Homo sapiens: one gene and its partners. The protein of the gene in region 2 purifies or fractionates together with the protein of the main gene of each other region. This does not show direct contact. Each region holds a gene or a part of one and is shown on either strand. Other genes may lie near its edges.

Region 1 (7,133 bases), on a different chromosome or scaffold from region 2:
AAAAAGTTGTCTTTAATAGAATCCACAGCTAACATTCTATTTACGTTTTTTTAATAGAGATGTTTTATTTTTTTATTTTGCTTTTTTTTTTTTTTGAGACAGAGTCTCACTCTGTCACCCAGGCTGGAGTGCAGTGACGCGATCTCAGCTCACTGCAACCTCCACCTCCTGGGTTCAAGTGATTCTCCTGCCTCAGCCTCCCAAGCAGCTGGGACTGCAGGCGTGTGCCACCACACCCAGCTATTTTTTGTATTTTTAGTAGAGACAGGGTTTCATCGTGTTAGCCAGGATGGTCTCAATCTCCTGACCTCGTGATCCACCCGCCTCAGCCTCCCAAAGTGCTGCGATTACAGGCGTGAGCCACTGCGCCCGGCCTTTATTTTGCTTTTTAATACACATGAGGTCGGCTGGGCGCGGTGGCTCATGTCTGTAATCCCAGCACCTTGAGAGGCCGAGGCGGGTGGATTACCTGAGGTCAGGAGTTTGAGACCAGCCTGACCAACATGGAGAAACCCCGTCTCTACTAAAAATACAAAATTAGCCAGGCGTGATGGTGCATGCCTGTAATCCCAACTACTCAGGAGGCTGAGGCAGAAGAATCACTTGAACCCGGGAGGCGGAGTTTGCAGTGAGCCAAGATCATGCCATTGCACTCCAGCCTGGGCAACAAGAGTGAAACTCCATCTCAAAAAAAAGAAAAATAGACATGAGGCCTCACCATGTTGCCTAGGCTGGTACTGAACTCCAGAGCTCAAGCAATCTTCCTGCCTTGGCATGCTAAAGTGTTGGGATTGTAGGCGTGAGCCACCACACCTGGCCCCAATGTCCTTTGTTTAAAGATGGAGAGGGGGCAAATGGGTAATACTGACTCTGTGAAGAGAATGAGTCATTTCCAGTTATCACCATGATTACCTTTTAATTTATCTTTAATGTTTTCTGATAAATGTTTTGTAAGCTGAGGCATTTCTTCTGGAGAATATTCAGCATTTGCCAGTTCCTCCTTGAGCACAGCATGGATACAGTCTTTAACCACAGAGGGCCTGAACCTGAATGGAACAATTTGTGAACATCCAGTCGGTGACTCCACAACCCCAGCTTACCTTCATACCGCAACTTCTCCCATCTTTTTGTCATTAGTACCACTTAATCCTTCTTTTTCATATTTTTTATTATAAAATATAAACAAATTAAGACAAATCATAGGCCACATGTGTATCTTCAACCTGGACCTGCACTGAACTTCAACACATTCCAACTCATGCTCCATATGAATGTTTATTAGGCAACTCAATACATCCAATAATGAGCTTCTCATACTCCCCTCTCCCCCAAAACAAAATATATACTTGTTGTTAATTTTGTTCTGCACGCTTTCACAAAATAAAATAAAATAAAATAAAATAAAAAAATACGGCTGAATGGCATTCTGGGCATTCAGAACCTTTTACCAAGATAACTGAGGGTATCTTTCTCTGTGTTCATTCTACCCAAGGGAAAAATCCTGTATGAAATTTGTATCACTTTTTCTGTGAGTTACCAAGAGAATAAAAATAAACAAAGAAATTTGTATCACATTATAATCAAAATTCCTGTTTTCCATATTTGCCAAGCAAATATGGGGTGTGTGTGTGTGTGTAAAGTTAGTGATCTTACAAACCTAGCTGAGTACCCTCTGCTCTGGCCCGTGAGCCTGACATTTTTTTCAGTGTGTGTGTGTGTGTGTTGTGTGGTGTGTGTGTGTGTTGTGTGGTGTGTGTGTGTGTGTGTAAAGTTAGTGATCTCACAAACCTAGCTGAGTACCCTCTGCTCTGGCCCGTGAGCCTGACATTTTTTTCAGTGTGTGTGTGTGTGTGTGTGTGTTGTGTGGTGTGTGTGTGGTGTGTGTGTGTGTGTGTGTGTGTGTAAAGTTAGTGATCTTACAAACCTGAGTACCCTCTGCTCTGGCCCGTGAGCCTGACATTTTTTTTCAGTGTGTGTGTGTGTGTGTGTGTGTGTGTTGTGTGTGTGTGTGTAAAGTTAGTGATCTTACAAACCTAGCTGAGTACCCTCTGCTCTGGCCCGTGAGCCTGACATTTTTTTTCAGTGTGTGTGTGTGTTGTGTGTGTGTGTGTGTGTAAAGTTAGTGATCTTACAAACCTAGCTGAGTACCCTCTGCTCTGGCCCGTGAGCCTGATATTTTTTTCAGTGTGTGTGTGTGTGTGTGTGTGTGTGTGTGTAAAGTTAGTGATCTCACAAACCTAGCTGAGTACCCTCTGCTCTGGCCCGTGAGCCTGATATTTTTTTCAGTGTGTGTGTGTGTGTGTGTGTGTGTGTGTAAAGTTAGTGATCTCACAAACCTAGCTGAGTACCCTCTGCTCTGGCCCGTGAGCCTTAATCCTAGCGAGGGCTCGCTGCGGTGGTCTAAGGGCCTCCAGATCCCACCCGGGTAGGACTTCGCACAGATGCAGCTCCCGCGCCGGGAGTGAGCCCATCCTGGCACCCGTGTGCACAGTCACCCTCGAATCACGGCTGAACGGCATCCGACGCGAGTGGCTTCCTGCCTCTATTCTACCCATCTCCTTACTCAGGACGCCATCGCGGGTTTCCCAGGGCCAACCATTCCCGCCGCGCCACCCTAAGACGCGCCCGGCGCCCAAACACTGAGGAAGCGGGTGGGGTCCCCTGCGGCCCCTGCAGCGGGAGGGGCGCCCGGACGTCACAGCAGGGCCGCCCGCCCGCCTCGCGGCCTCCCGCCTCCCGCCCCGCGGACCCCGCGCGTCCCCCGCGCTCCTTCCGTGGCCCAGGTCCCAGGCGAGCTCCGCCCCTCAGACCAGCGCGCTCGAGGTCGCCCCGCCACAGCCCGTCCTCTACCCGCCTCTGCTGGAAAACAGGCCGCAGAATATAGGTGTTCTCGGGCTCCCCTGCGTTCTTCTCAGCCTCAGGCACCCCGTCGCCCACCGAGAAGGACACTCCGATGGACGTGGCCATGCCGGGGCTTCTCGGTCCGGGCGTAGCTCGCGATGAAGGCCTAGCGGGTTGCGGTCGCGGCCGGCAGCAGGGAAAGCGTCTCCAGGGCAACAGGGCCGCCCTCCCGCCTCGCTGAAGCCCGCGAGCGCCCCGCACAGCCGCCCTCCCTGCCCGCGCCTGCGCACCGGCTGCTGGGCGGGAACTGGTCGCGTCCGGACGCGCGACAGCTTCCACCCGCCTCAGGCAGTATCAGCCGCGCCGCAGTCGGAGGAAATAGACGCGGGGCCTGAGGCTCCTGGACTTGAGGTATTAGGCTGGTGCAGAAGTAATTGCGGCGGCCGGGTGCGGGGGCTCAGGCCTGCAATCCCAGCACTTTGGGAGGCCGAGGCGGGCGGATCACCTGAGTCAGGAAGAGTTCAAGACCATCCTGGCCGACATGGTGAAACCCCATCTCTACTGAAAATACAAAAATTAGCCGGGCGTGGTGGCGCGTGCCTGTAACCCCAGCTGCTCTGGAGGCTGAGGCAGAATAATCTATTGAACCCAGGAGGCCGAGGTTGCAGTGAGCCGAGATCGCGCCACTGCACTCCAGCCTGGCGACAGAGCGAGACTGCGTCTCAAAAAAAGAAAAAAAAAAAAAAAGGAAGGAAGGAAAGAGACTTAGGCTGCATTCCCCGCTTTTAAAAATATATATTTATTTTTATTTTTTTAAACGAAGTCTCGCTCTGTCACTCAGGCTGGAGTGCAGAGGCGCGATCTCGGCTCACTGCAACCTCCACCTCCCAGGTTCAAGCAATTCTGCCTCAGCCTCCCAAGCAGCAGGGATTACAGGCGCGCCCCACCACGACCGGCTAATTTTTTTTGTATTTTTATTAGAGACGGGGTTTCACCATATTGGCCAGGCTGGTCTCCAACTCCTGACCTCAGGTGATCGCCCACCTCGGTCTCCCGAAGTGCTGGGATGACAGGCGTGAGCCATCGTACTCTGCCGCATTCCCTGCTTATAAGCACCAGTCCCTGGTCCTGTTTTAGAAGGCTGTTGTATCTTGGCCTCTGCTAGCTTCAAAAACTAAGGCCCGATGAGGTAGCTCGTGCCTGTAATCCCTGTTTACAGGAGAGGCTGAAAGGGCAGGGATTCCTTTTTTTTTTTTTCCCACTTGAGACAGGGTCTTGCTCTGTTTCTCAGGCTGGAGTGCAGTGGCACACTCACCGCTCACTTCAGCCTCGACCTCTTGGACTCAAGCAGTCCTCCCACCTCAGCCTCTGGAGTACCTGGAACTACAGGCGAATGCCACCGCGCGTGGCTAATCTTTTTAATTTTTGTAGAGATAGGATCTGGCTATGCTGCCCAGGCTACTATTGAACTCTTGGGCTCAAGTGATTATCCCACCTCAGCCTTCCGAAGTGCTGGGACTACAGGCATGAGCCATCACAGCCAGCTGGGATATTGTTTTTCGAATCGCTGTCATGTTCTGTACTATATGCAGTTCCTGAAAGAATGGAGGCAAGAAGGAGTCAGCTAACCACTGTGAACTGTCTTAGTGCCAAGGACCCACCCTTCTCTCCTTGGGGTCCTGCTGACCCATCAGAATAGGGCTGAGCCAGGATGGGGCTTGTGGAGATGATGTGTATGAGTGTGCATGCACTTGTGTGTGCATGCCTAACATCCAAAACTAGATATAAATTCTTTAAACTTTTCATTAGTTGGCCAGGCACGGTGACTCGCACCTGTGATCCCAGCACTTTGGGAGGCCGAGGCGGGCGGATCATGAGGTTAGGAGATCAAGACCATCCTGGCTAACATTGTGAAACCCGGTCTCTACTAAAAATACAAAAATTAGCTGGGTGTGGTGGCATGTGCCTGTAATCCCAGCTACTTGGGAGGCTGAGGCAGGAGAATTGCTTGAACCAGGGAGTCGGAGCTTGCAGTGAGCCGAGATCACACCACTGCACTCCAGCATGAGACTCTGTATCAAAAAAAAAAAAAAAAAAAAAAATTCTGCGTGAGTTGTGTGGAGGTGTCAGTACCTTTCCCCAGCAAGAGAAGCTTCTCCATATCAGGCATATCCTAGCCATGACCCTGAAACTAACCAGCCAAGAGGGAAATGTGAGACAAGCCCAGGCAAGCTTCCTGGATGTTGTATGCAGGAATAGGATGTGCTCTCTGGACTTGGAGACTTCCTGCCTGCTCAAGAGGCTGTGCCTCCTTGTGTCTCCCACAGGCCTCTGTGTCCACCTTCCCCACCCTGGCAGGCCTGCTAGGCCAGCAGCCCTGGAGAGGAAAGGGTGAGGTGGTGTTTGAAGGGACCTGCCTCCTACGAGCTCTGCTGGTTGGACTGTCGGATGACAGAACCGTGCCTCTGAGCCTGGGAGAGGGAGGCACCCCTGTGTTCTGGAAGCCCCCAGTGCTTCAGCAACTCCTCACTGAGGCAGAATAGTGGAGGAATCAAGCTGGGATCCAGGGGACTGAGGAGGGGATAGAGCAGCACCTGGGCCCCACATTCCCTTCCAACAGAGCCTGGGGTGCTGTGTTTCCGGGAGGGTTTTTTTTGTTTTTTGTTTTCCCGAGACAGAATCTCGCTCTGACCCCCAGCCTGGAGTGCAGTGGCATGATCTCGGCTCACTGCAACCTCCGCCTCTCGGGTTCAAGCAATTCTCCTGCCTCAGCCTCCCGAGTAGCTGGGATTACAGGTGCACACCACCACACCTGGCTAATTTTTGTATTTTTTATAGAGACGGGGTTTCACCATGTTGGCTAGGCTGGTCGTGAACTTCTGACCTCATGATCTGCCTGCCTCAGACTCCTAAAGTGCTGGGATTACAGGTGTGAGCCACTGCACCCGGCCTCTTTTTTTTTTTTTTTTTTTTTTTTTGTGAGACAGAGTCTCTGTCCCCCAGGCTGGAGTTCAGTGGTGCAATCTCGGCTCACTGCAACCTCTGTCTCCTGGTTTCAAGCAATTCTCCTGCTTCAGCCTCTGAATAGCTGGGATTACCGACATGCACCACCACGCCCATATAATTTTTGTATTTTTTGTAGAGCTGAAGTTTCACTATGTTGGCCAGGCTGGTCTCAAACTCCTGACTTCTGGTGATCCACCCACCGTGGCCTCCCAAAGTGCTGGGATTGCAGGTGTGAGCCACCGTGCCCGGCCAGAGCCTGGGGTTCTCAAACTCGTTTCTGGGGACCGCCCACCACTTTTCTTGCCAGTGCCCATCTTCCAGGTTCCTCCCAGGCTGCTTCTGCCTGCCTTGTCCTCTTCCTGCCTGTCACACCACACTCTCCCACCAGCATCTTCCTCATTCCGCTCTGACTCTCCTCACCACCCAGCCCGACCTGACTGAAAACCCCGCAGTGGGAGAGCAGGAGGCCCCTGCTTCTAGGTGCCGTGTGAGAAGCAGCTGTGAGGTCGGGTTGGGTGGCTCACGCCTGTAATCCCAGCACTTTGGGAGGCCGAGGTGGGCGGGTCACAAGGTCAGGAGTTCAAGACCAGCCTGGCCAATATGGTGAAAACCCATCTCTACTAAAAGTACAAAAAAAATAGCCAGGTGTGGTGGCGGGTGCCTGTAATCCCAGCCACTCAGGAGGCTGAAGCAGGAGAATCGCTTGAACTTGGGAGGCAGAGGGTGCAGTGAGCCGAGATCATGCCACTGCACTCCAGCCTGGGCAACAGAGCGAGACTCCATAAAAAAGAAAAAGAGATTTAATTGGCTCACAGTTCTGCAGGGGTTACAGGAAGCATAGCACCCACATCACTCAGCTTCTGGGGAGGCCTCAGAGAGCTTTTACTCATGGCAGCAGGTGAAGAGGGAGCAGGCGAGTCACATAGTGAGAGCAGGAGCAGGCGAGAGAGAGGCCAGAGGTGCCACACGCTTCTAAATGACCAGATCTCGCGGGAACCCACTATCACAAAGACAGCTCTGAGCCGTGAGGGATCCGCCTCATGATCCACACACCTTCTGCCAGGCCCCACCTCTAGCACTGGGGATCACAATTCAACATGAGATTTGGGTGAGGACAGATATCCAAACTGTGTGGACAGAGGTGATGCTCCTCTACTTGTTGAACTCTTGAACACTAGTGAAGAGAATGCTGGTGTATTAGTCTGCCAGGCTGCTGTTGCAGAATACCATGAACTGGGCACTTAAGCAACTGAAATAGATTTTCTCACAGTGCTGGAGGCTAGAAG
Region 2 (7,105 bases):
ACTGTCATTACCTGTTGGGGAGTGTTTTTTTAGTGCTGAGACTTTCTGCGGATTAATTCATTTAATCCTCACAATAACCCCACAGAACAAGTTCAGTTCCCATCACTCCTTTTTAGATGAGGATATGAAGATGGGAGAGGTTAATTAAGGTGCCGGAGGAAGTGGAAGAGGCCACATTCAGTCCTGAGCAGCCTGACTGCAGGATCCGAAGGCTGGTGTGTTTTGCTGTGCCAGGTGCAGAGGCCATTAAGACAACCCTGTGTAGAACTTAGAAGACAGGGCCCCATTGGCACCGCAGCTCTCTCTCAGTCTTGAGGCACCCACACTTGATGCTACGGGGAGCTTCCTCCTTGTCAAGCTTCAGTCTAACACCAGTTCATCACACAGGGCCTTACCAAGCCTGCTACAGAGCATCCTTTACCACCCGTGCCCAGCCCCTCCTTTATGAACTCCACAGTGCTTTCCCCTCTCTGCTGCAGATTTCCTGGTGGACTGTGGGGGAAGGGAGGGGCTGGGCCACTGCTAGAGCAGGAAGCCAGCTGCACCCACACCTCTGGCCAGTCCTCTCCACTCCTCTGTGCTGCGGTGCTTAGCGGTTAATGGGCATCTCTCTGATAGGCCCCTGTGACTCGCAGCCCTGCCAGAATGGAGGCACATGTGTTCCAGAAGGACTGGACGGCTACCAGTGCCTCTGCCCGCTGGCCTTTGGAGGGGAGGCTAACTGTGGTAGGTATGCACCGGCCCTGCAAGACTGACCACTGGGGAGCAAGAAGAGGACGGGCTCCCCTTTTCATTGCACGCCCTTCCAGCTGCTGGGTAGAAACTGGCCCTTGAACCATCTGCTTTCCAATGCACCACTGGTCTGCAGTTCACGTGGTGCAGCCTGTCAGTGCTCCGTGAGTAGATAATTGGGGTGGCTGAGCTCTGGATGAGACAGTGGCTCCCAGCTTATTAGCTGCAGAATGGTCACTGCTTGAAGTTTGAGTGCTGCCCAGCCCAGCTGAAGGCAGGAGTCCACCCAACTCTGGCTCCCAGTCCTGGGCAGAGTCTTTTCTTCTCTATTCTATGAAAGCAGAGCAAGGAGCCCCGATTCCTTTTGATTTTAGAGGTGTGAAATGAAGATGATAGTAGGCTTTACCTCACTGGGTGGTTGAGAGTTTTAAATAAGATTATGCAAAGTGCTTAGTACCATGCTTGACGCATATAAGGGCTTGATGAATAATAACTTTTAAAAACAAGTGATACTGGGTTAGTTGAAGATCTGTATGAAAACAATCTTGACCCTGTACCTCACAACCCTACCAGAAGTCAATTCTAGCGTGGCTATAGACCTCTGTGCAAAAGGCAAAGCAGTGAAGCCTGTAGAAGCAAACACAGGAGCATATATTTTCATGATCTTGAGGCAGACAAAGATTTCTCAGGACACACACAGGACTAACCATAATGGAAAAAAGTGATAATGTAGATGGCATTTTTCTTTAAAAAGTGGCTAGATGGAGACCCTTAGCGAGTGCCAGGAGTGCCATGTCTGGCCTTGTCTCTAACTCTGTGACGAGCACGGGTCACTTAAGCTTGGGGGGCCCACAGTTTCTCTGCACCATCTCCCTCCTGGGAGATGTTCGGCATCTCGGGTGGGACAGCTCGCATGCCGCATGACCATGGCTTGACAGTGGGTGTTGCTGTGATCCCCGCAGCCCTGAAGCTGAGCCTGGAATGCAGGGTCGACCTCCTCTTCCTGCTGGACAGCTCTGCGGGCACCACTCTGGACGGCTTCCTGCGGGCCAAAGTCTTCGTGAAGCGGTTTGTGCGGGCCGTGCTGAGCGAGGACTCTCGGGCCCGAGTGGGTGTGGCCACATACAGCAGGGAGCTGCTGGTGGCGGTGCCTGTGGGGGAGTACCAGGATGTGCCTGACCTGGTCTGGAGCCTCGATGGCATTCCCTTCCGTGGTGGCCCCACCCTGACGGGCAGTGCCTTGCGGCAGGCGGCAGAGCGTGGCTTCGGGAGCGCCACCAGGACAGGCCAGGACCGGCCACGTAGAGTGGTGGTTTTGCTCACTGAGTCACACTCCGAGGATGAGGTTGCGGGCCCAGCGCGTCACGCAAGGGCGCGAGAGCTGCTCCTGCTGGGTGTAGGCAGTGAGGCCGTGCGGGCAGAGCTGGAGGAGATCACAGGCAGCCCAAAGCATGTGATGGTCTACTCGGATCCTCAGGATCTGTTCAACCAAATCCCTGAGCTGCAGGGGAAGCTGTGCAGCCGGCAGCGGCCAGGTAAGGTCCCAGTGCCTGACCCAGGACCGCTGGTCAGTGGGCGGGTCCTTCCTCCTTTTGGCCACCACCTAACCATCATTTTCTGCCAGTGCCTCTTCTAGGGGCTGAAACCACAGCCCCACTCTTTCAGGCACCAGTCACATAAATAATTTTCAGTTTACCTGTCAACAAAATGGGACTAATAGTAGTACCTCCTGAGAGATCTTTAGTGAGAATTAGGTAAGATGGGCAGTGTACATGCTTAGTACAGAGTAAGCACTCAGCAAACTCTAGGTGTTGCTGTTATCATTCTTAATCACGATTTTATTGTTGTTGTTACTAAGAGCTCTGAATCTACTAAGCAGGCTCCAGAGCAGCAGCTTCCCAGCTCCTTTGATGGCAATCCACAGAAAAGTGTGTTCCTGGTGCACACATGCACATGTATGCACACATACACACACGGATGCATGTGCATGCACACGCGCTGGTGCAGCCACACACAACTGAAACAAACGCTTCCTGAGAGGATACTTACCCTGTCTACTTGGGATGCATTCTGACATTTTTCTCTTCTGTTCTGTTTTGCAAGCCATGAAGCTGATTTTTTATGACCCCTATTGGAAGGCACTCTAGAGAACACTGTCCCCACGCAGAGGCCTGGCCCATGGCCAGAGATGTAGTAGCTGAAACACGTCTTTTTTTTCTTTTGAGACAGGGTCTTGCTCTGTTACCCAGGCTGGAATGCAGTGGCACGATCATAGCTCACTGCAGCCTTGAACTCCTGGGCTCACGTGATCCTTCCACCTCAGCCTCCAGAATAGCCAGGACTACAGGTGCACACCACCATGCCCAGCTAATTGTTTTATTTTTTAGAGAGATGTGGTCTTGCTATGTTGCCCAGGCTGGTCTCGAACTCCTGGGCTCAAGCAATCCACCCACCTCAGCCTCCCAAAGTGGAGGGATTACAGGCTTGAGTGAAATGTAAGCCTTTATAGGGCTCCTGGAGTTCTCCCCTTGGTAGGTGGGCATGGGAAGCTACAGATGTGATTCTGCTTCTCAGCCCTGATGCCACCACTCTCCCCAAGGCGAGAGGCTTTCCCTCCTGTAAGGCGGAAGGACAGGGATTGGCTGCCCACTCCCACCCTGCCCCTCCAGGCTGGTCTAAGTGCTTTTGTTCTGCTGCTTTGTTTGGTTGGATTTTTTAAAAAAAATAATAGTTGTAGATTTATAGGAAAAAATAATTGACAATAGTGGAGAGTTCCCTATACCCCACACCCAGTTTCCCCTCCTATTAACACCTTGCATTAGTATGGCACAGTGTTATCATTAATGAACCAGTATTGATACATCATTATTTAGTGAATCCATGCTTATTTATATTTGTTTAGTTTTTACCTAATGTCTTTTTTGTGTTCCAGAATCCCATCCAGGACCCCACAGTACATGTAGTCAGCCGCCTTCCCCGTAGCTGTGATAGTTTCTCAGACGTTCCTGGTGTGGGAGTGGTTTTAAAAACCAGTAATCAGAGCATCAGCTCCTCTAACTCCATACTTAGAATTTCCAGTGGTTCCCCTTTGCACTTGGAATAAAACCCAAACTCCTTCCCCTGGCTTCTGAGAGCTCCCTGTGGCCTGGTCCCCACAGGCCTCTCTGCATCCCCTGCACAGGAGAGGCCTTCTGGCTCATACTTACTTGTCTTTCAGTTCTTAGGTGAAATGTCACCTCCCCAGAGAAGCTCTGACCCCTTCTCCCAGTCTTGTTATGTTCCCCTACTGGTCTCTCTCGAAGTCCCCTGCTTTTCCCTCCACGCTGCCGACATCATTTGTAATTCTATGTTCATTTCATGTCTGTTCCCCTAGACTGTCAGCCTGTTGACAGCAGGCATGGGCCCATTTTGTCCATACAGCATCTAATTAGTGCCCTGCATACTGGGGATGGATGAAGGCACAGGTGAAGATGTTGTCACAAAGGGTTGCCCACAAACCCAAACCCCATGGGTTACATAAGACAGGAACTTATTTCTCTCACATACAGTTCAGAGGTGAGTGGCCCGGGCCAGCAGGGCTTGGTCATCTTATGGCTTCCACCTTGAGGTCCAAGGTCACCATTTCTCAGCCAGCAGGAAGGGGGAGAGGGGAAGTGGAAGGTAAGCAGCTTCCAGCTGCATGAGTTTGAAATTGATCACGTCCGTCAGATAGAACTTAGACACGTGGCCACCCTAGCTGCCAGGAAGTCTGGGAAATGTGGTCTGGCAGGCACTCATCTTCCTGCTAATATTCTAGGAAAGTGCTGTTCTGTGGCTAAAAGGAAGACATAGAGGGTGTATTCTGCAGTGAACAGAGCACCCTGGCTGACCTTGGTCCTACCCAACCTGGCAGTCCCTGGGTCCCGTCGAGGGGCTCTGACTGGCACATCCACTGCTGAAGCCCCTCTGCTTGCTCCTGCAGGGTGCCGGACACAAGCCCTGGACCTCGTCTTCATGTTGGACACCTCTGCCTCAGTAGGGCCCGAGAATTTTGCTCAGATGCAGAGCTTTGTGAGAAGCTGTGCCCTCCAGTTTGAGGTGAACCCTGACGTGACACAGGTCGGCCTGGTGGTGTATGGCAGCCAGGTGCAGACTGCCTTCGGGCTGGACACCAAACCCACCCGGGCTGCGATGCTGCGGGCCATTAGCCAGGCCCCCTACCTAGGTGGGGTGGGCTCAGCCGGCACCGCCCTGCTGCACATCTATGACAAAGTGATGACCGTCCAGAGGGGTGCCCGGCCTGGTGTCCCCAAAGCTGTGGTGGTGCTCACAGGCGGGAGAGGCGCAGAGGATGCAGCCGTTCCTGCCCAGAAGCTGAGGAACAATGGCATCTCTGTCTTGGTCGTGGGCGTGGGGCCTGTCCTAAGTGAGGGTCTGCGGAGGCTTGCAGGTCCCCGGGATTCCCTGATCCACGTGGCAGCTTACGCCGACCTGCGGTACCACCAGGACGTGCTCATTGAGTGGCTGTGTGGAGGTGAGTGGGGGAATCCACACCCTCAGGGCTGCCCCCATGGCAGGCCCTCAGCCTGAGCCTTCACATACATCATGACGAGGATGGCAGCTCTTCCCAGCTACTGAGCACTTGCTTCCCAAGTGCCAGGTTCTGTGCTAAACCCCATGCTCACATAAAATCCTACAGTAGGCATAACCATCCTATTTGACATTTAAGGTACAGAAAGTTTAACTAACATAGATAACTCCCCCCAAACTTGAGAATTTATGCATTCCCTTTAAACAGAACACACTTTTAGAATATCCACAAGCTTCCTAAGGGTCTAAAGATCCCACATTCACACTGACTTGGGCAGTGACAGAGCCCAGAGCAAACAGGGCCAGGCCAGCCCAAATCCAGTGACCTCCTCTTCACCTTCTTAAAAGAGACAGGAGAATCACTTGAACCCGGGAGGTGGAGGTTGTGGTGAGCCAAGATCGCGCCATTGTACTCCAGCCTGGGCAACAAGAGCAAGATTCTGCCTCAAAAAAAAAAAAAAAAAAGTCTGCCATGTGTATGGCACGTCTGAGCAATGGACTCTCCATGAGTCTGTAGGAGAGCTGGGTCTTACTAACCTAGCCAAGTGGTATGCAGCACCAACCATGAGCTACCGGGGCAAAGGGAGACATGACTCTAGTAGCCTTGCACCTCTACTGGGCTTACTTAGGGTAGGGGTCTTCGGGTCTAACCCATGCCTGGCCGGCCTGGTGGGTATGGTGTTCTCCATTGTAGAAGCCAAGCAGCCAGTCAACCTCTGCAAACCCAGCCCGTGCATGAATGAGGGCAGCTGCGTCCTGCAGAATGGGAGCTACCGCTGCAAGTGTCGGGATGGCTGGGAGGGCCCCCACTGCGAGAACCGTGAGTGGAGCTCTTGCTCTGTATGTGTGAGCCAGGGATGGTATTGCGAGTCCTGCCAAGTCCCACAAACTCAGCTGAAGGCAGGTTCTAAAACATTCGTTCAGTGGAAGAAATTATTCAGTCGTTTACCCACGAAACATTTAGTGAGTACCTCCTGCATCCCAGGCATTGTTCTCAGTGCAGGAACATAGCAGTAAACAAATGAATAAAACCTCTGCCCTCATGGAGCTTCCATTCTAATGGGAAGACAGACAATAAGCAAATAATACAACATGTGGTGTGGTAGACGGTGCTAAGCACCCCGGAGAAAGTCATGACAACTAGGAGGGAGGCCACAGTTAGGAGCACAGTAGATCCAGGGTACAGGGATGTAGACGGAGGCAGGGATGGGTAAATGCGGTGGTGGGAGCTGCTGGAAGCTCTTTTTGGGGTGCTATTTGCTCAGTAAAATGGGAGGAACAGCTAAGTGAGGACGAGGAGGAGGTGCTAGAGGTTTGAGAGAAAAGAAGTCATTGTCAAGGGTAACAGATTAGGACCTAGAGAGTGATCGTTGGGAGGCATTAGAGGTCCAACTATGGCTCCTGTTCATGAGTTTGAAGTTAGAACAGCCAGAAATCAGAAGACAAGTCCAGTCGGAGCCTTGGTTTTTTGGCCACGGGCAGAGGTTGGCTTCCTAAGGCCAGAGAGAAGCTCTGGAGGATAATCACATGGGGTCTCTAATCTGGCATCTTCTGCTGGGGGCGAGGTGGGTTGTAGAGTAAGAGCAGGACCTGAAGGGGTCCTCAGAGGCTGCTGGAGGGCTGAGAAGGGGATGCAGACACTCCTGTCCTCAGACTTCACTTCCTTCCCCAGGATTCTTGAGACGCCCCTGAGGCACATGGCTCCCGTGCAGGAGGGCAGCAGCCGTACCCCTCCCAGCAACTACAGAGAAGGCCTGGGCACTGAAATGGTGCCTACCTTCTGGAATGTCTGTGCCCCAGGTCC
Region 3 (7,654 bases), on a different chromosome or scaffold from region 2:
TGGAAAGTTCACTGAGATCAATTATGTTAAACATACTATATGAAGAAACTCCTACTTGTGATAATATTCATCTGAAGCCATTTAAACAGGAGAAGTTCAGGTGGGTAATGAGTGATGAGCATTTACTATGTATTAACAACATGCTACAAACTGGGATACAATGATCGAGCTATTACAGTGAATAAGACTATAGAACACAAAAGAAAGGTTTTAAGGGAGTGTGTGGTATAAATCCTTTTTTTTTTTCTTTTTGAGGTGGAATCTCGCTTTGTCGCCCAGGCTGGAGTGCAGTGGCATGCATGATCTTGGCTCACTGCAACCTCTGCCTCCTGTGTTCAAGCAATTCTCCTACCTCAGCCTCCCAAATAGCTGGGATTACAGGCACACGCCACCATGCCCAGTTAATTTTTATATTTTTGATAAAGACAGGGTTTCACCATGTTGCCCAGGCTGGTCTCAAACTCCTGACCTCACGTGATCCGCCCGCTTTGGCCTCCCAAAGTGCTGGGATTACTGGCACAAGCCACCACGCCCAGCCGGTATAAACCCTTTTTTAAGGATATCTTTTCACTTGAACAGAAACAAACTCAACATAGAGAAAAATTAGTTGAAATATGCAAGCTTTGGCTATTCGGTGTAATAGTCTCAAAACTGAAGTATCCTCAGGTGTGGGCCAGCATTGGATTTGGAGTCTGAAGACCTGGGTTCAAGTCTTCTGTTCAAAAATAATATACAGGGTCAGGCACGGTGGCTCAAGCTTGTAATCCCAACATTGCGAGCCCAAGGCGGGTGGATCACCTGAGGCTAGGAGTTCGAGACCAGCCTAGCCAACATGGTGAAACCCCATCTCTACTAAAAATACAAAAAGTAGCCGGGCGTGGTGGCAGGCACCTGTAATCCCAGCTACTTGGGAGGCTGAGGCAGGAGAATCGCTTGAACCCAGGAGGCAGAGGCTGCAGTGAGCCGAGATCATGCCACTGAACTCCAGCCTGGATGACAGAGTGAGACTCCGTCTCAAAAAAAAAAAAAAAAAAAAAAGGTAATCAACAGATGCCTTCCAAAGTGCTTTCAACTCAAAGCCCATTCTCAGACTAAAACAATAGCAAGCATCACCATTTTACAGAATGAGAAATCAGTCAATGTTAAGCTTAGCAGCTCTTACAAGAATGCAATCAGTAGCAAAAGAAAGCTTAAATACAGGTAATCTGATTTTTCAGCTTACTGATCTACTAAGGAAAACTGCACATCTTTTCATAACTAAAGCGTTTCTGAAACTGCAGCATACATTAAGCATTTCATATGCCGCCCATTAAATAACTAATATATTCTATTTCACAAACAGGAAAAGAGGTTGAACACCATTATGTAAGTAGTAACATAGGATAGTACCCCTGTTCTCTTATGACACATTCTTAACAGTACTGGTTTTTAAGGCGAGGGAGAAAAGAACCAGGAAGTGGACCAGTGGGAGATAAACACAGGTTAAAATCCCGTCCAAAAAAAAAAAAAAATTTACATCTTCATAATGGCATCCAAATTCAAGTGTTTGGGTTTTGGCTTTTTTACCTAACAATATACTGTTGTGACTTGACTTTTCCATTACCGTGTAATAATGTTTCTTTCCTATTGGAAGCAATCTCTCCTAATCTCCCAAACCTAAAGTAGAATTATTCATTTCATCTTCTTCCTAAATGAGACCTCGACAATATGCCATATAAAGGAAAATGGGCTCTTAGGCGTTTCTCCTTCTTAGTAAAATGCCAATGCAACATATGCCAACACTGGAGACAAAAAAATTCTACTTGAATTTACTGTGAAAAAAAGATTTATAGCATTTTTTAAACCTACATGTTCATTTCTGTGCCATTAACTTTTTGAGGCATTCTACAGAGTCTCCAACAAAGAGAGAAATAAGTATTAGGATCACAACCTACGAATCTGGGTGGAACAAAGACTTCTCCTTTCATTATGCAGAGAAAACCAAGTTGCCAAAAAAAAAAAACGGTCCCCTCAGATACCATGCACGGTTACTAACTGCACGTCTGGGTACAGAGAAGGAAAAATCATCTGGTCAAAAGCCCAAATGCCGCCCCGGCCTACCCTCGCCCCCCGCCCCCGCCCCCTTTGCCCATGGCCTCGCCCCAGAGCTAGAGTTCCAATATTTTTCTCCCCAATAAAGGGAAGCGGTTTAACCCTTTGAGTTCCACAACCTTGCGTTCTTCTACGCAGGCGCCCCTCCAGCGCAATCCCAGTTCTAAATCGAGTCGCTGCCCCTTTCCGCGACCACACCCAGATCCCCAAAGGCCTGCTCCCATCCCGACCATTGATGTGAGAAAGGCCAAAACCGGCCCCAGCGGGGCTCCCAGCCCCGCCGCTCCCTCTCTTCCTCCGGGCCAAGGCGTGCCCAGAAAGGGACGCGAGCGCGCCCCTCAGTTCTCGCACGGGCTCGACCAAGGGGCGAGGAAGGAAGAATCGGCGCAGCGGCGAGATGGGCACGAACCTCGCGCTCACTTGCTGCTCAGTGCCAGGGCGAGGGGCGTCGCTCTGCCCCCAGAATCCAACTGGTAATGTGGGAAAGGTGTGGTCCAGGACCGGTGACCTCGAACCGGGGCCCAGCAGTTCGCAGATCCTCACCCCGCGATGCTGGGGCCTCACCCACGACCCCAGCCCCCTCCCAGTCGGCACCCAAGCCCACTAAAGACCCCTCTCCGGGGCCGCAAACACAGTCCTCGGGGCCGCCCGGTCGGAGCCGTGTCAGGTGGTGACAGGAGGCGACGGGTGACCATGGCAACCCGAGGTGTGCAGCGGACCGACCCAGCCTCCGACTCCCGGAGTCACCCACCTGAGGGCTCCAGGGCAAGCCCGGAGGAGCGGCGGAGGAGAACGCGGCTGGGAGGCCGGCGGCCAGGGCCCCGAAGCGGCCGGCTCCGGGCTGCGGCAGGAGCACGACGGCGGCGGTCTGGGTTTGGCGTCGGTCCTCCCTCCTACCGCCCGCGCGTCAATCCATCAGTTCGTCAATCCGTCCTTCTCACGTCCGCCCCTCCCGGCCCAGCGACTCCTCAGCTCAGCCTCTTGCAGACTGCGGTTGTCAAGTGCCGGGGAGCCGAGCTCTACCCGCGAGCGGCAGCCAATCGCCGCGCTTCCCCGAGGCGCCTCAGGACCCCGCCGCGCGGGGCGGCCAGGCAGGTGCCTGAGCCGAAGGGCGAGTCGGCGGGGCGGGGCGGGGCGGGGAGGGGCGTGGAGGGGCGGGCCCAAAGCTGGGGCGGGGAGGGGCGGGGCGGACCAAAGCCTGGGCGGGGCGGACCAAAGCCTGGGCGGGGCGGGCGGGGGTCGGGCTTGGAGGGACCGGCTAGGGGCCCGGGGGAGTAGCAGAACGGGTGCGGCAATAGCGTGAGACTGGTGGCAGGGACGTAGACCCTTAGCTGGCCGGTGACCCCATGTCCCAAAATAGCACGAACAGGATTGTCGCCTGCAAATGGAGAAGACTGCGCATTAGGATTGACTCTTCATACTCCTCCCCGATAATTAATAAAGGTTAATGAAATTAATGTTGCCTTCTACCCTTCTTTCGCTGCTTTCCTAGGTCCCACTTCGTCCCAGAAAACTCCAGTAGTTTGTTTGTCCCCTTCCTGGTTTCTCATTTTGCAAAGCTGATCTGCCTTGAAAGCATTTTTCAGTTACTTAACATTTAATATGTTCAGGTTTTGTCTACTCCTGTTGGTTGTAAGCCCCTTATTCCACAAATATACGTGATGTTCAACCGAGCTTAATTAAGCATCCAGGAAGTATAACCATAAGGAAGAATACAATTACACAAACCTGTAAGAACATCATTCTCGGCCAGGCGCGGTGGCTCACGCCTGCAATTCCAGCACTTTAGGAGGCCGAGGCGGGCGGATCACCTGAGGTCAGGAGTTTGAGACCAGCCTGGCCAACATGGTGAAACCCCGTCTCTACTAAAAATACAAAAATTAGCCGGGTGTGCTGGCAAGCCTCCTGTAATCACAGCTACTTGGTAGGCTGAGGCAGGAGAATCGCTTCAACCTGGGAGACGGAGGTTGCAGTGAGCCGAGATCATGCCACTGCACTCCGGCCTGGGTGACAGAGCGAGAGACTCCGTCTCACAGAAAAAAGAACATCATCCTCACAGAGGCGAAAGTCCAGAGTGAGCTGGACCTCCCAAAAGGGGAAAATGGGGTAACAGTCTGGTAAAGAGAATAAACATCAAAAATATTTCTGGCACTCCCATGCTTATTGCAGTACTATTCACAATAGCCAAAATATAGAATCAACCTATGTCAATCAACAGACAAATGGATAAAGAAAATGTGGTACATATACACAATGCAATCTTTTTTTTTTTTTTTTTTTTTTGAGACGGAGTCTCGCTCTGTCGCCCAGGCTGGAGTGCAGTGGCGCCATCTCGACTCACTGCAAACTCCGCCTCCCGGGTTCACGCCATTCTCCTGCCTCAGCCTCCCGCGTAGCTGGGACTACAGGCGCCCGCCACCAGGTCCGGCTAATTTTTTTTTTTTTTTTTGTATTTTTATTAGAAACGGGGTTTCACCGTGTTAGCCAGGATGGTCTTGATCTCCTGACCTCGTGATCCACCCGCCTCGGCCTCCCAAAGTGCTGGGATTACAGGCGTGAGCCACCGCGCCCGGCCACACAATACAATCTTATTCACCCATTAAGAAAGAATGAAATCCTGTCATTTGCAGCAACATGGATGGGACGGGAGGACATTATGTTAAGTGAAACAAGACAAGCACAAAAAGACAAATATTGCACGTTCTCACACATATGTGGGAACTAAAAGAATTGATCTCGTGGAGGTAGTGAATAGAATGGTGGTTACCAGAGGCTAGAAAGTGTAGTGGAGGGCAAAGGGGGGATAAAGAGGTTAATGGGTACAAAAATACAGTTATGTAGCAGGAATAAATTCTAGTGCTCAATAGCATAATTGGGTGACTATAGTTAACAATAATCTATTCTATATTTCCAAACAGCTAGAAGAGAAGATTCAGAATGTTCCCAACACAAAGAAATAGTAAATGGCAGGCCAAGCGTGGTGGCTTATGCCTGTAATCTCAGCACTTTGGGAGGCCGAGGCGGGCAGATCACGAGGTCAAGAGGTCAAGAGATCGAGACCATCCTGGCCAACATGGTGAAACCCTGTCTCTACTAAAAATACAAAAATTAGCCGAGTGTGGTGGTGTGCGCCTGTAGTCCCAGCTACTCGGGAGTCTGAGGCAGGAGAATCACTTGAACCCGGGAGGCGGAGGTTGCAGTGAGCCGAGATTGGGCCACTGCACTCCAGCCTGGTGACAGAGCGAGACCGCGTCTCAAAAAAAAAGAAAAGAAATAATAAATGGGTGGGCACAGTGGCTCATGCCTGAAATCCCAGCACTTTGGGAGGCTTAGGCCAGAGGCTCACATGAGGCCATGAGTTAGAGACTAGCCTAGGCAACATAGTGAGACTCCCTCTCTACAAAAACAAGAATAAAAAATTAGACACGGTGAGACACACCTGCAGTCCTAGCTACTTGAGAGGCTGAAGTGAGAAGATAGTTTGAGCTCAAAGTCCGAGGCTACCATGAGCTATAATCACACTACTGCACTCCAGCCTGGGTGACTGAGTAAGACCCTGTGTCTTAATAATAATAATGCATTTCTAAGGTGATGGATATCCCAATTACCCAGATTTGATCATTACACATTGTATTTACTCCAGAAATATCTACAACTATTATGTAACTATAAAAATTAAAAATAAACAAAATTTAAACCATATTTCTGGGAATACAAAATCTTGTCCAGTTCAAGATAAAAGAAGCGAGAGCTTGAAGATACACATTTCTTTTTTTTCTTTTCTTTTCTTTTTTTCCTTTTTTTTTTTTTTTTTTTGAGATGGGGTCTCACTGTGTCGCCCAGGCTGGAGTGCAGTGGTGCGATCTTGGCACTCTGAACCTCCTCCTCCTGGGTTCAAGCGACTCTCCTGCATCAGCCCCCAGAGTAGCTGGGACTACAGCATACACCACCATGCCCAGCTAGTTTTTGTATTTTTAGTAGAGACAGGGTTTCACCATGTTGGTCAGGCTGGTCTCGACCTCGTGATCCGCCTGCCTGCCTTGGCCTCCCAAAGTCCTGGGGATTACAGGCATAAGCCACTGTGCCTGGCTTTCTTTTTTTTTTGAGACGGAGTCACTCTGTCACCCAGGCTGGAGTACATGGCGCAATCTCAGCTCACTGCAACCTCTGCCTCCTGGGTTCAAGCAATTCTGCCTCAGCCCCCTGAGTAGCTGAGATTACAGGCAGGTGCCACCACACTCAGCTAATTTGTGTGCCACCACACTCGGCTAATTTTTGTATTTTTAGTAGAGACGAAGTTTCACCATGTTGGCCAGGCTGGTCTCAAACCCCTGACCTCAAGTGATCCTCCCGCCATGGCCTCCCAAAGTGCTGGGATTACAGGCATGAGCTACTGCACCCAGCCGAGGAAACATTTCTAAGAAAAATACTTATGCATTCAGAGAAAACAACACACAAAAGCTGAACTACAAAATTTCAATTGCCTAGTCAGTAACTCCTGGAAGAAAGTCTTCATTATGAACCCTCTTAATGATAAGTGACAGGCAAATAAATATAAACATAATTGAATGTTACCCAGGATCTTGATATTGAAAACAAAACAAGCAAACAAACAACACATTACAGAGTGTTTAAATTGAAAAAGTAGGCAGATACGTTTTTCCTGAAAGTAGTATCTCAATTATTTTGCTAGTATAGTTCATCTAAGAAACCACTTCTAAATCTTTATGATCAAACAAGAAGTTTTGAGAACCAGTATCCTTTTTTTTTTAACTTCATTTTTTATCCCATTTCCCACATTTTTATCAGTTAGAACCTTTTCCCCATGGACCCATATTCTGAAACTTTAGGAATTAATTACATTTTCTTTCTTTTTTTTTTTTTTTGTTTTTTGAGACAGTATTGCTCTGTCGCCCAGGCTGGAGTGCAGTGGGGCGATCTCAGCTCACTGCAACCTCTGCCTCCCGGGTTCAAGCAATTCTCCTTTCTCAGCCTCCCGAATAGATGGGATTACAGGCCCATGCCACCACACCCAACTAATTTTTGTATTTTTAGTAGAGAATGGGTATAACCATGTTGGCCAGGTTGGTCTCGAACTCCTGACCTCAAGTGATCCATCCACCTCAGTCTCCCAAAGTGCTGGGATTACAGATGTGAGCCACCGTGCCCAGCTAGGAATTAATTACATTTATTAACAAATCGTTAATAATTAATTATTGGGTCAGAATCATAGAATTCTAGAGGGTTTTTGTTTGTTTGTTTGTTTGTTTTTTGTGACAGTGTCTCACTCTGTCGCCCAGGCTGGAGTGTAGTAGGGCAGTCATGGCTCTCTGCAGCCTAGAACTCCTGGGCTCAAGCGATCCTTCCACCTCCGCTTCCCCAGCCCAGTAGCTGAGACTACAGGTGCAAGCCACCATGCCTGGCTAATTTTTTTTTTTTTTTTTTTTAAGTAGAGACAGGGTTTTGCCTTGTTGCCCAGGCTGGTGCTAAAATGATCCTTTCCCCTTGGCCTCCCGAAGAGCTAGGATTACAGGCATGAACCATCGTGCCCAGCCCAGCATCC

The links.
Region 1: the proteins of VWA2 (region 2) and DYNLT2B purify together in Homo sapiens (affinity purification with mass spectrometry; 2 studies listed by BioGRID and IntAct, with this or other methods). This does not show direct contact.
Region 3: the proteins of VWA2 (region 2) and WDR47 purify together in Homo sapiens (affinity purification with mass spectrometry; 2 studies listed by BioGRID and IntAct, with this or other methods). This does not show direct contact.

The regions. Positions count from the first base shown.
Region 1 is NC_000003.12:196,315,186-196,322,318, forward strand, and holds the start of DYNLT2B (dynein light chain Tctex-type protein 2B), read right to left. Parts: upstream 3,056-7,133; 5' UTR 2,968-3,055; coding exon 2,855-2,967; intron 2,407-2,854; exon of another isoform or gene 1,789-2,406; intron 1,658-1,788; exon of another isoform or gene 1,257-1,657; intron 1,047-1,256; coding exon 913-1,046; exon of another isoform or gene 900-912; intron 1-899. UniProt on the Homo sapiens protein: Acts as one of several non-catalytic accessory components of the cytoplasmic dynein 2 complex (dynein-2 complex), a motor protein complex that drives the movement of cargos along microtubules within cilia and flagella in concert with the intraflagellar transport (IFT) system.
Region 2 is NC_000010.11:114,284,245-114,291,349, forward strand, and holds part of VWA2 (von Willebrand factor A domain-containing protein 2 precursor), read left to right. Parts: intron 1-618; coding exon 619-726; coding exon of another isoform or gene 727-730; intron 731-1,694; coding exon 1,695-2,267; intron 2,268-4,693; coding exon 4,694-5,245; coding exon of another isoform or gene 5,246-5,301; exon of another isoform or gene 5,302-5,989; intron 5,990-5,995; coding exon 5,996-6,121; intron 6,122-6,973; coding exon 6,974-6,993; 3' UTR 6,994-7,105.
Region 3 is NC_000001.11:109,039,020-109,046,673, forward strand, and holds the start of WDR47 (WD repeat-containing protein 47), read right to left. Parts: upstream 3,084-7,654; 5' UTR 2,843-3,083; exon of another isoform or gene 2,501-2,842; intron 1,954-2,500; exon of another isoform or gene 1,931-1,953; intron 1,907-1,930; exon of another isoform or gene 1,849-1,906; intron 1-1,848.